3 separate regions of the Homo sapiens genome follow, and all the other regions are reported to be linked to region 2. The links are microRNA targets in miRTarBase. Many come from high-throughput screens and were not tested one by one. Region 2 holds a microRNA gene; each other region holds the end of a gene's coding sequence.

Region 1 (3,248 bases), not on the chromosome of region 2:
CCGCCCTCGCCAAGCCGCCCGGTACGCCGCCCTCGCTGGGCGCCAGCCCCGCCAAGCCCCCGTCCCCCGGCGCGCCCGCGCTGCACGTGCCCGCCAAGCCCCCGCGAGCCGCCGCCGCCGCCGCCGCCGCCGCCGCCGCGCCCCCCGCCCCGCCCGAAGGCGCCTCGCCAGGGGACAGCGCCCGGCAGAAACTGGAGGAGACAAGCGCGTGCCTGGCCGCGGCGCTGCAGGCGGTGGAGGAGAAGATCCGGCAGGAGGACGCGCAGGGCCCGCGGTAGGTGCGGGGCGGGGCCTGGCGGGCGGAGGGCGGGGCTCGGCAGAGATGGGCGGGGCTCGGCAGAGATGGGCGGGGCTCGGCAGAGATGGGCGGGGCTCGGCAGAGATGGGCGTGCCGTGAGCGGGGCTCCGCCGAGGTCGTCGTGCGGTAGGCGGAAGCCGACGGAGATGCGGGACGTGGGCGTGTCCTGGTCGGGGTGGGCGTGGCCAGACCCGCCCCGCCCACTCACGCCCCTTGCCCCGCGCCCCGCAGCGACTCGGCGGCGGAAAAGAGCACTGGCAGCATCCTGGACGACATCGGCAGCATGTTCGACGACCTGGCCGACCAGCTGGATGCCATGCTGGAGTGAACGCCGCCTGGCCGGGCCCTCCCGCGCCGCCCGGGCCCTCCCCGCACACTGACCTATACCTCAGGATGGGCGCGTCTGGGCGCGGCGCGAGCGGCCGGGCAGGGCCCTGCAGAAGCACAACTCCGGCCCCTGGACCCGGGCCGGGGCGCCCACCGGGGACCGCCTGGCCGGGGGCTCCAAGGGCTCTAGGCAGACCCTGCGCCCGCGGGTCCTCCCCACCTGCTGCTCCCCGTGCAATACCTGCTGGGCCTCCTGCCCGCGCGGGAGGGGAGGGCGCCCCGGGACCAGGGATGGGGCAGCGCACAGGCCCGGGCCCAGCACAGAACTGCCCATCGGGACGCCCGGCCAGCCGCTCGGGCGCAGCACAAGGGACAGGGGACCAAGGTCAGGGCCCCCCTGCCCCACCGCACCCCCAGAATATAAGCTATCAAGAGTATTAATTTATTGGGAATGAGCTGAGGCGGATTTCCCCAGAGAAACAAAAAGGTATAACTTTAACAAATATATATTTAAAGAAAGAAATATTATTGATTCTATAGAAAACCATTTACCAACTGAAAGGACACGAAGTCTAGCTCCGGACAAAAGCTGTTAGAGGCCCAGGCTGTCTGCCTGCGGTCCTTCCTCCGGCCAGAGTGGAGGCCCCAGGCTGCTAGCACAGGTGGAAGGCTGGGGCCCGGGGGCGGGTGCTCTGCCGGGGGCTCCTCCGTGCTTCTCTCCTAAGTTCTCTGCGCCCCAAGAACTCGAGGTTGTGCCTTGCTCTCGGCGGCCGTGTCCTCCTCCTGGCGTGGCTGCGTCCCAGGGCGCGGGTGGGTTTGGTGAATGTGGGTGTGTCAGCGTGGCAGCCACGTGGAAGCAGGGCATGTAGCAGGCCAGGCCACGGGCTTGCAGCTCCTCTGAGGGTGTGCCTGGCCCCCTCTCCAGGGGCTGTGCAGGCAGCCCATCCACCCCAGTGGAGTTCCCACGGACGCTTCTGCTCATGGTCCAAGGCTGTGTTGTGTGGTCATTCTCGCCCTCCCTTTTCCTCTCTCCTCCTGCCCCCTCCAAGAAGTACTGACTGGTCTCCTCTATCGTGTTTGCTGATCCACAGTGTTGGGCACAACTTTGACGTTTCTTAAAAAAAAAATTTAAAAAATGCCGAAAACCAGCGATTGTGGTGTGGGGCGGGTGGAGGCGGCTGGCGGAGGTGGCGTCCCGGCGTGCAGGGCCCCTTCCTGCTGTCTCACCCCGTGTTTCCCTGCGAGTGGACGTGCCCAGCTGTCCCCCCAGGCCTCTCCTCAGAGGGCGGCACAGGCTGGGCTCCAGCAGGTGGGCAGGGGAGGTCTGGGCAAGGCGCTGCCGTCGGCTGTCAATAAACAGCAGGAAACAGAGGTGCCTGGCTCACTTTTTGGGGGCACATGTGTTGGGGGAGATGGGACTGGAGGCCAGCAGCTTGGGTGTGACGAGTTGCCTCCTAGCAGGGAGGGGAGGCCCCGGAGTGGGCCGAAGTCCTGGGGTCCACCAAAGGAAACTGCCCCATGCCCCCCCACTCACAGCAGCCAGTGCCTGTGCACACCAACCTCAAGGCCACACACAGCCCCCTTGTCCCGAGGAGCTGTCCCCACTCACAGCCACAGTCTGTGGAGCATTTATTTCAACCAGGAGGTAACCAAATCTACATACAGTCTAAAAACGGTAGAAAAGGTGAGTAAAAAGGCCCTCGCTCCATCTAGGGTGGGGATGGAGGGTGGGGATGGAGGGTGGGCCGGGGCAAGCGTCGTACCTGGCACCCAGAGAGGGGCTGGGCAGCAAGGACAGTGCCGAGTAGAGGGAGGCTCGCCGAGCATGGGACGGGGAGGGCACTGCCCGGCTGCCAGAGCCTGTCCACCTATGCCCACGGGGCAGGCAGAAACCCCGAGACCACCCCATGTGGCCAGCCTGGCTCAGAAAGGTCCAGGGCTGGTTCAGGGGAAACCACAGCCTGGCCTGGATCCTGTTAGCAAGTCCAAACCTGCAGAGAAAGGGCTGCTTCACCAGGATGTCCTGCGGCCGGCTGCCCTGCCCCAGCCACACCTGCCACACGTACCTGCCCTCCACCACTTTGTGCTGGGGCTGCCAGCTCCTCGTCCCCACCCCCGCTCCATCCTGTGCAGCCCCTTTGAATGGCCTGAGCCACGGGCACTGACCTTCACAGTGCTATCCACAGCCCCTGAGAAGAGTCGGCCCCGGGACACAGCCAGCGCGGTGACACTGCCCTGGTGACGCAGCAGGGTCTGCGTGCAGATCATGTTGTCCATACTCCAGACCTGGGGGCACATGGGACGTGAGGGCCCGCCGGAGCTCAGCTGCCAGCCCTCTGAGCCTCCTGCCACCGCTGGGCCAGCACGCACCCTGAGGGACCGGTCGTAGGATGCACTGAAGACTTTGGTCTGGTCTGGCGTCGAGATGACCGCCAGGGCATACACGGTGCCCACGTGGCCCGTGAGGGTCCGCACCTGCTCCTTGGACTCAATGTCCCACACCTGGGAGGGGTGGGCACAGGCAGGTCAAAGACACTGAGCAAGGCGGGGGAGACGGGGCCACAGTCTGGCCTTGCACCCAGATGCCCAGGCCTTACGTGGATGAGGTTCTCGTAGGTGCCAC
Region 2 (3,247 bases):
CCCACCTTGGCCATCCCCTCATGGGCCTCAAGCTCACACCACCCTCACTTCCAAATGTCCCCAGCCTCCCTTGCCTTCCTCCACCTCACAAAGAGCCTTTCTAGAACCAGTCTGACCCCACACTGGGGCCCGTTCCAGCCTGCTGACCTGGATGCTGAGAGTGGTTCTGGGAGGTCCTGGGTACTCGGGGTCAAAGGTCGAGTCAGGTTGCCGCAGGCAGGCAGGTTTTAGGACGTAGCCACACTGCCCATTGACTAGGAAGCGCCCGGCATTGAGGTCCATCTCGTAGCCTGGCGTCTGGAAGTTCAAGGCCACTGTGGACACAGCAGGGTCAGAGCAGGGGCTCTTAGCGGCCCTGTTCTCACTACTCAGTTTCAGGGGACTGCATTCCTCTCTACAAAGGGCCTGGGGTCCCACTGTCTGCTTAGTGCTGCTCTGCTCCCACCATGACTTTAGGGGAGGGGGTCATGGACCCAGCCCCCACTGTCACCTGTACTTCTGCCCTGGGATCCCTCAAGACTGGGGTGGGAGGTACTAAAAAAGCCCCCACCCTCAGGGCCAGGCTTGGGTCAGAGCCAGGGGTCTGAGGAAGCCTGGGGTTTCCATCCTTACCCCAAGGAGACGATACAGCCCTCCTTTGGTGGGGCTCAGCGTCCCCCAGAGCCCACCCTTGTCAGTGTTGACTTAGTGGGACTGCCAGGTGTGTGGGGGTTGTGTGTGTCCGGGGGACATGGGAGTGGAGATTTTAATTTCTACCATGATAAAAATGCGAGACCTGTACACTGTCAAGAACAAACGAGCCTGATTTGATTTTCCCACCTACATTGCTGGCAACTTTAAAAATAATCAACAAAATGCGTGTTTCCACCGTCTGGAAGGCTGTGTGGGCCCCTCACTGCTGAGGCCTCCCCCACACTGTGGCACCCCGCCTGCTCTCATTCCTGTGGCCCCCACTTACCCAGCTGACAGCCCGAGTTCCACATCTCCTGGGGACTGTAGTTGGCTGAGTTCATCCGCAGCCCCAGCGGGTACACGCGGGTCAGCTGGCGGGCATTGTGCCTGACAAAGCTGTTCCCTGGGGCAGAGTTGGGGTGAGACCGTGACAGACTCCGGGGGTCCCTCACCCAAAGCCCCGGCCTGTAACCTCCAGGGAACAGAGCCCAAGCCCGTCCCCAGGTCACCCTGCCCCCGCTCCTCACTCTCTTCTGACCTAGAGTGAGAGGGGAGCTCACTGAGGAGGCTGCAGGGACCCCCTCCAGCCACACAGCCTGGCCCTGCATCCCCAGCCCCCAATTCCCAGCTCCTGACAAAGTTCCAACCAAGTACACTGAATGCCCACGGCCCTCCAGCTCCACTGTGGTTCCTGGAATTCTTCTCCAGGCCAAGGCCCCAGGCCTTCAACAACCTGTTCCTCCTGTCTGGAAAGCGCTCTCCCCTCTTCACCTGGCTGCTTCCTAGTCCTCCAGGTGATGTGTCCTCTCAGCATCACCTGCCCCAGGAATTCCTCCCCAGTGTTGCAGCAGCTGCTGGGCTCCCCCAGCCCCCAGCCCAGCCTGACCCATCACCCTCTATGGCCGGCCCCACCACAGGGCTCTGAAGGCAGACAGCAGGCCGCCCTCAGCGTGCCACTCCCCTCCATCCACCCTGGCATGTGCGGGGCCCTCATTCCCTCAGCCCAGCCCCTCTTTGGGGTCCTCTTGACCTCTTTACTGTCCCCCAAAGCCCCCTCAACTCCTTTCCAGACTCCCTTCAGGAGGTCTCTCACCCTCTCGCCCCCAGACACCCAGTGCCCCAGCTCCTACCTGCCTCCCGAATGAGTTTCTTGGCTTTGCGCTCGCTGAGGGAGCTGACCTGGCAGGGTTGTGGGGCGTTGGGGGCAGGGTGCAGGGTCCGCAGGCGGGTGGCGTGGCAGTACACAGCCAGGGCCGACAGCTCCGGGGAGATCTGCTTGGCCTAGGAGACCAGGCTCAGCGGGGTTCAGCTGGCCCCCGCTTCCCACATCCGTCCTCCCACCTTCCCCCCCTTCCCCACCCCACCCATCCCAGCTCTCACCAGCCGCCTCTGCGCTGCAGCCTCCACCTCCTCTTCTTCCTCCTCGTCATCCTCCTCCTCCTCCTCCCGATCCGACAGAGCCCGGCCATCCTCGCTCCGAGCAGCGGGCAACTTCTTTCCCTTCACCAGGACCCGGCCCTTCAGCTGCTGTGGGGGCCAACGTGGAGGATGAAGGGTTAGGCCTTCTCGCCCCTGTGGCAGCCAGTCAGTCAGTTATTCAACCACCGCCTTGTGAGGGGCTGGCTAGGGGTGGGAGGCAGGAAAGGAGACACAGAGATGAGCGATGTTTCTAATAGGAAAGAGTGGAGAATGGCCCGGGAGGCCATCAGGAAGGGATGCTTAATAAGGTCCCTCAACATCAGAATATACACAGCAGCCACTACAATGCACGCGACAGCTCAGGACTGAAAGGAAAGGGACCCTCTTCAAAGAAGATCTTACGTGGAAGAAGTGAGGCTACAACCTGGAATCACATGTCCTTTTTTGGTACCATTTAAAAGAGAAGACAGTACACATATGTACACAGGTAATGTGTGTGGGGAAATTCTTGAAGGACATGCAAGAAAGTTAGAGATGGTTACTTCTTGTGAAAGAGGACAGGTCAGTGGAGGGAGGGGAGCACTGCTCATCGCGTCCCTTAGTACAGCTCAGTTTTCTTTTACCATACGGGTGTGATTTTCACAGTAATAACAAAAATCACATCTCACACACACACGAGGGTGAGTCAACCCTGCCTGCATGTTGGGGATTGGAAGTAGGAGGAGAGTTTTCTCAAGGAGCCCGACAGGATAAATGTCTGGAGAGAGCCGAGGACGCGCTCTGGTGTCTGGGGGAGAGCAGGAGGCCGCCTCAGGCCCGAGAGTTGGGGAAGTGGATAAGGCCACAGGAAGAGGCGGCTGAAGTTGAGCTGAATTCTAAGCAGGTGACGCTTGGCAAGTGTGGATGGCCGAGAAGGGACTTCCAGGTGGAGAAAGTGTCAAGCGGGGCCTTGCAGGTGGGAATGGCAGAGCCTGCAGGACTCTACGGGCAGGGACACAGGGCCAGCAGGGCAAAGCCAGGTTACAGAAGAGGGTGTGTGTGTGGGGGGGTCTAGTCAAGAATGGAGAGCCAGAGGGCAGCAGAAGGACAAGACCAGGGGATGGCAGACCTCAGATGAACAGAGGAACAGAGAAAAGTTAAGGCAGCAAGAGGTGAG
Region 3 (3,248 bases), not on the chromosome of region 2:
GTGGTAGCTAATTTTTAAATCTAATAATAGCTAAGAGTTACTGATTAATGATTTTCCAGGCACTGTTATGCCTTTGACATGCATAACCTCGTCTCATTCTCTCAACACAACACCCTGCTGTAGGTAACATGATTATAACCATTTTGTGGAATAGGAAACCTAATCTTGGGTGGATTAAATAAACTGCCTATCATCACACAACTAGTAAATGGCAGGACTCAAGCTTTAAATTATATCTGACTTGTAAGCTGTGCACTCTAACCTCTCAGCCATTTTACTGCATATGCAATATATTTATTGCCCAGATTCACTGTCACATTCATCGGCTATATTATTAATTATCATTATAGTCATTCACTTAACAGACAATTACTAAGTGTCATTTATGTGCTACTTTGGAGGAAAAACATCAAATCTTGTACATCCCTCAAGGAGTTACACAAAATGGGAAAAGGTACAGAGACGAGCACACTGTAATTTCAAAAGCCAGTAGCTAAGTAGTACTATACAAATAGATGACGCTTCTGATGAGGATACATATGAACGCCAATGTTGCTTGAAACATGGGAGAAAGGCCCTTTTTTACTTGTGAGGCAGTTTGGTGGTTAGAAGTGGATTCTGGGCTGAGGCTGCCTGGGTACAAATTGGTAGCTGGATGGTCTTGGGAAAGTCACATGCTGTAGTTTCTCCAACTACAAATTAGGGATAAAAGCAATACCTATCCCACAGGGGATTTCATGAGGATTAAATGTATCTATTACTTAGAACAGCTCCCAGGACATAATCAGCTTTGGCCAGCATTGATGTTAATGCTGAAGCCTATCCATTTTCTACCTAGTACTTACAAGGTTTGATATTTCTTCTGTAAACCACCATGTATTACTTGTCTCTTACTGAAATTTATTTTCCCTACTTTTAAAATTTATTTACTGTTTTTTTTTTTTTTTTTTTTTTTTGGTGGGGGGAGGCTGTTTGTTTCCTGATACTCTGGTCATTTTGATCCTTTACTAGTGAATCTCCCTCCACTTCAATTTGGATATTCCCATTCAATTTAAGAGACTTAGTCCTCTTCTTTCCATCCTACAAGGCTGTCATCTTTCTTGACAGACAAAGGATAGTGGTCAATCTGAAAAGAAAATATTTTGGAAGAAAGAATATAGCCAGAGAGTGAGTTATGAGTTCATATATTTTCTGAGCATATCTACTTAACTCTTTGCTTGTATCAGGTTATTCTAAAGCACTTTTACTTGTCTGTTCCATATCCAGGTAACAGATCTCATACCTATGGAGGGAGAAAGTGCCTCTCTTCTGTTTTCCAACTTGCTGTAGAAAATGTTAAATCACCTGAGGTCCAGGAAAGATCTCAGGCTAATATAATTTAATAGGATAATCAGAGTTGACATGAACCATGATAAATGGATTTAGAATAGCCGCTGGCCCTTCTTCTTTTTGAACAGTGGTATTGAGATTTGTGGTTTCCCTATTTGGCCGGCCATCAGAATCACATAGCGTGCTTGTTAAATACAGACCAGTCCTTGCTCTCATCTCTCCCACCCTCTCTCTATCTCCCTCTATCTCCAGTGATCTGACTCAGCAAGTCTGAGGTGGGGCTTAAAAATCTATATTTTTAAGCACTGGGAATCACTAAGATTATTTATGCATGTATTCATGAGACATGGACTTAATAATAGTAATTATAAGACTCTCCTTTTTGTTTTCTATATTGACATTGAAAAGTAACTTATTTGAAAACAAGATCCACTTAGCCTGCTTTCTTGAGTTTTAATGAACTCCCTAGTCTCTACTGGGGAAAAGGGGTGAAAAAAACAGCAGTCATTACTAGCTTGTTAGATTAGCAGAATCAGAATTTTCAAGCTGAACGCAACACTAAAGATAACGTCATTATTTATTCACTTTGCAGATACAGATGCAACTTTCTGCATAATGGGAGACTATGATGAGAATGCTAACAACCACAGACATTGTGACTTCCCAAAGTAATACAGTTAACTGGAACAGATTCTTGATTCCCAGAATATTTGGTTTCTTCACTTTTCTAATAATCACCCAAATAGACTGGATCTATTTCTCAATTTATGGCATTTATGCTAACCAAAGCAAGTGTGTTTGTATTTTAAAAATATAGCATAGTTAAAATATATAGACCAGGCCTGATGGCTTGGTCAACACTTTGGGAGGCTAAGGCAGGAGGATTGCTTGAGCTCTGAAGTTCAAGACTACCCTGGGCAACAAAGTGAGACCTTGTCTCTACTAAAAATAATAATAAAAAAAAATTAGCTGAGCATGGTGACACATGCCTGTAGTCCCAGCTACTCAGGAGGCTGAGGTTGGAGGATCGCTTTGAGCCTGGGAGATTGAGGCTGCCAGTGAATGATCTGATTGTGCCACTGTATTCCAGCCTGGGTGACAGAACAAGACTCTGTCTCAAAACAAAACAAAACAAAACAAAACAAAACAAAACAAAACAAAACAAAAAACTAAAGAAAGGCATAGTAACTATAGGTAACATCCTTTTTATCAAATACCTCTTAGAACCACATTTTGAGAATTAAATGGAATCTTACCTTTAAGAGGCACCTTGACATCAAGGCCATAGAATAAAGGCAAGAGAGAAGAACAAGAATAGAAACAGAAACTGCAGAAGAAAAAGAAGAAGATTATGTAAATCTGAATTTCTGTAGTGCCATTCAGGTAGTACAAAACCTCAGCTTTTCCATATTGCTCAAGTCTAATCACTTCACACATGAACATCAAGCACCTTTTTGTTTAAAAAAATCCACACCTTTTATGTAGCTACTGACAGAGTATCAGTGTTCAACTAACATTGATTCATACATTTTAGAATCATGAGGTGGTCTTACGAACAATTGGTCTAAGCTCCTAATTTTACAGATAAGAAAAATAAGCACAGAGCAGTAAATCAATAGTTTAATTTCATACAATTTTATGGCACAGTGAGGGCTAAAGCTTAGCTAGCCTGAATCCTACTTTATTATATATCACTGTCTCTTTCATGCACAAGAGGGTATTTCAAAAACACAAAATACGATCAGAACATACACTTAATCATGCAGTACTATCTTTTTTGGTTACTATGATAGGTTTTAGGATTAAGGCACAGCTGGGAGAATATTAATCTGTAGGCTAAATATATACTTAATTACTCACAGTGGAACATTTCAGAGAGAGAAATGGACACTGTTAATAATTACATTGGGTTGATGGGT

The links. Region 2 holds the annotated microRNA hsa-miR-6784-3p (UCUCACCCCAACUCUGCCCCAG, at 1,076-1,097, opposite strand). A microRNA usually pairs through its seed, bases 2 to 8, with sites in the 3' UTR of a target mRNA and lowers its output. Matches are read on the target gene's strand: a 7mer-m8 pairs with bases 2 to 8, a 7mer-A1 pairs with bases 2 to 7 and ends in A, and an 8mer does both.
Region 1: the mRNA of TRAF7 is a reported target of hsa-miR-6784-3p. Seed matches in the 3' UTR shown: 8mer at 1,847-1,854.
Region 3: the mRNA of JAKMIP2 is a reported target of hsa-miR-6784-3p. The part of its 3' UTR that is shown has no 7-base or 8-base seed match.

Annotation. Positions count from the first base shown.
Region 1 is chr16:2,175,928-2,179,175 of GRCh38, reverse strand. TRAF7 (TNF receptor associated factor 7) reads right to left here. Exons shown (of 21, transcript NM_032271.3): 18 at 3,223-3,248; 19 at 2,996-3,127; 20 at 2,792-2,911; 21 at 1,047-2,616. The coding sequence ends at 2,602. CASKIN1 (CASK interacting protein 1) reads left to right here. Exons shown (of 20, transcript NM_020764.4): 19 at 1-274; 20 at 530-1,996. The coding sequence ends at 626. Among named protein-coding and RNA genes, the nearest start is that of CASKIN1, 19 kb to the left of the region's middle. RefSeq lists an enhancer at 847-1,348.
Region 2 is chr17:45,113,292-45,116,538 of GRCh38, forward strand. MIR6784 (microRNA 6784) reads right to left here and starts at 1,142; the gene lies at 1,076-1,142. It overlaps PLCD3 (phospholipase C delta 3), which reads right to left. Exons shown (of 15, transcript NM_133373.5): 9 at 2,053-2,199; 10 at 1,803-1,953; 11 at 959-1,075; 12 at 148-314. RefSeq lists enhancers at 1-369, 1,236-2,101.
Region 3 is chr5:147,599,156-147,602,403 of GRCh38, forward strand. It overlaps JAKMIP2 (janus kinase and microtubule interacting protein 2), which reads right to left. Exons shown (of 22, transcript NM_001270941.2): 21 at 2,586-2,656. The coding sequence ends at 2,606. All of the region lies in intron 3 of JAKMIP2-AS1 (JAKMIP2 antisense RNA 1), which reads left to right. Among named protein-coding and RNA genes, the nearest start is that of JAKMIP2-AS1, 41 kb to the left of the region's middle.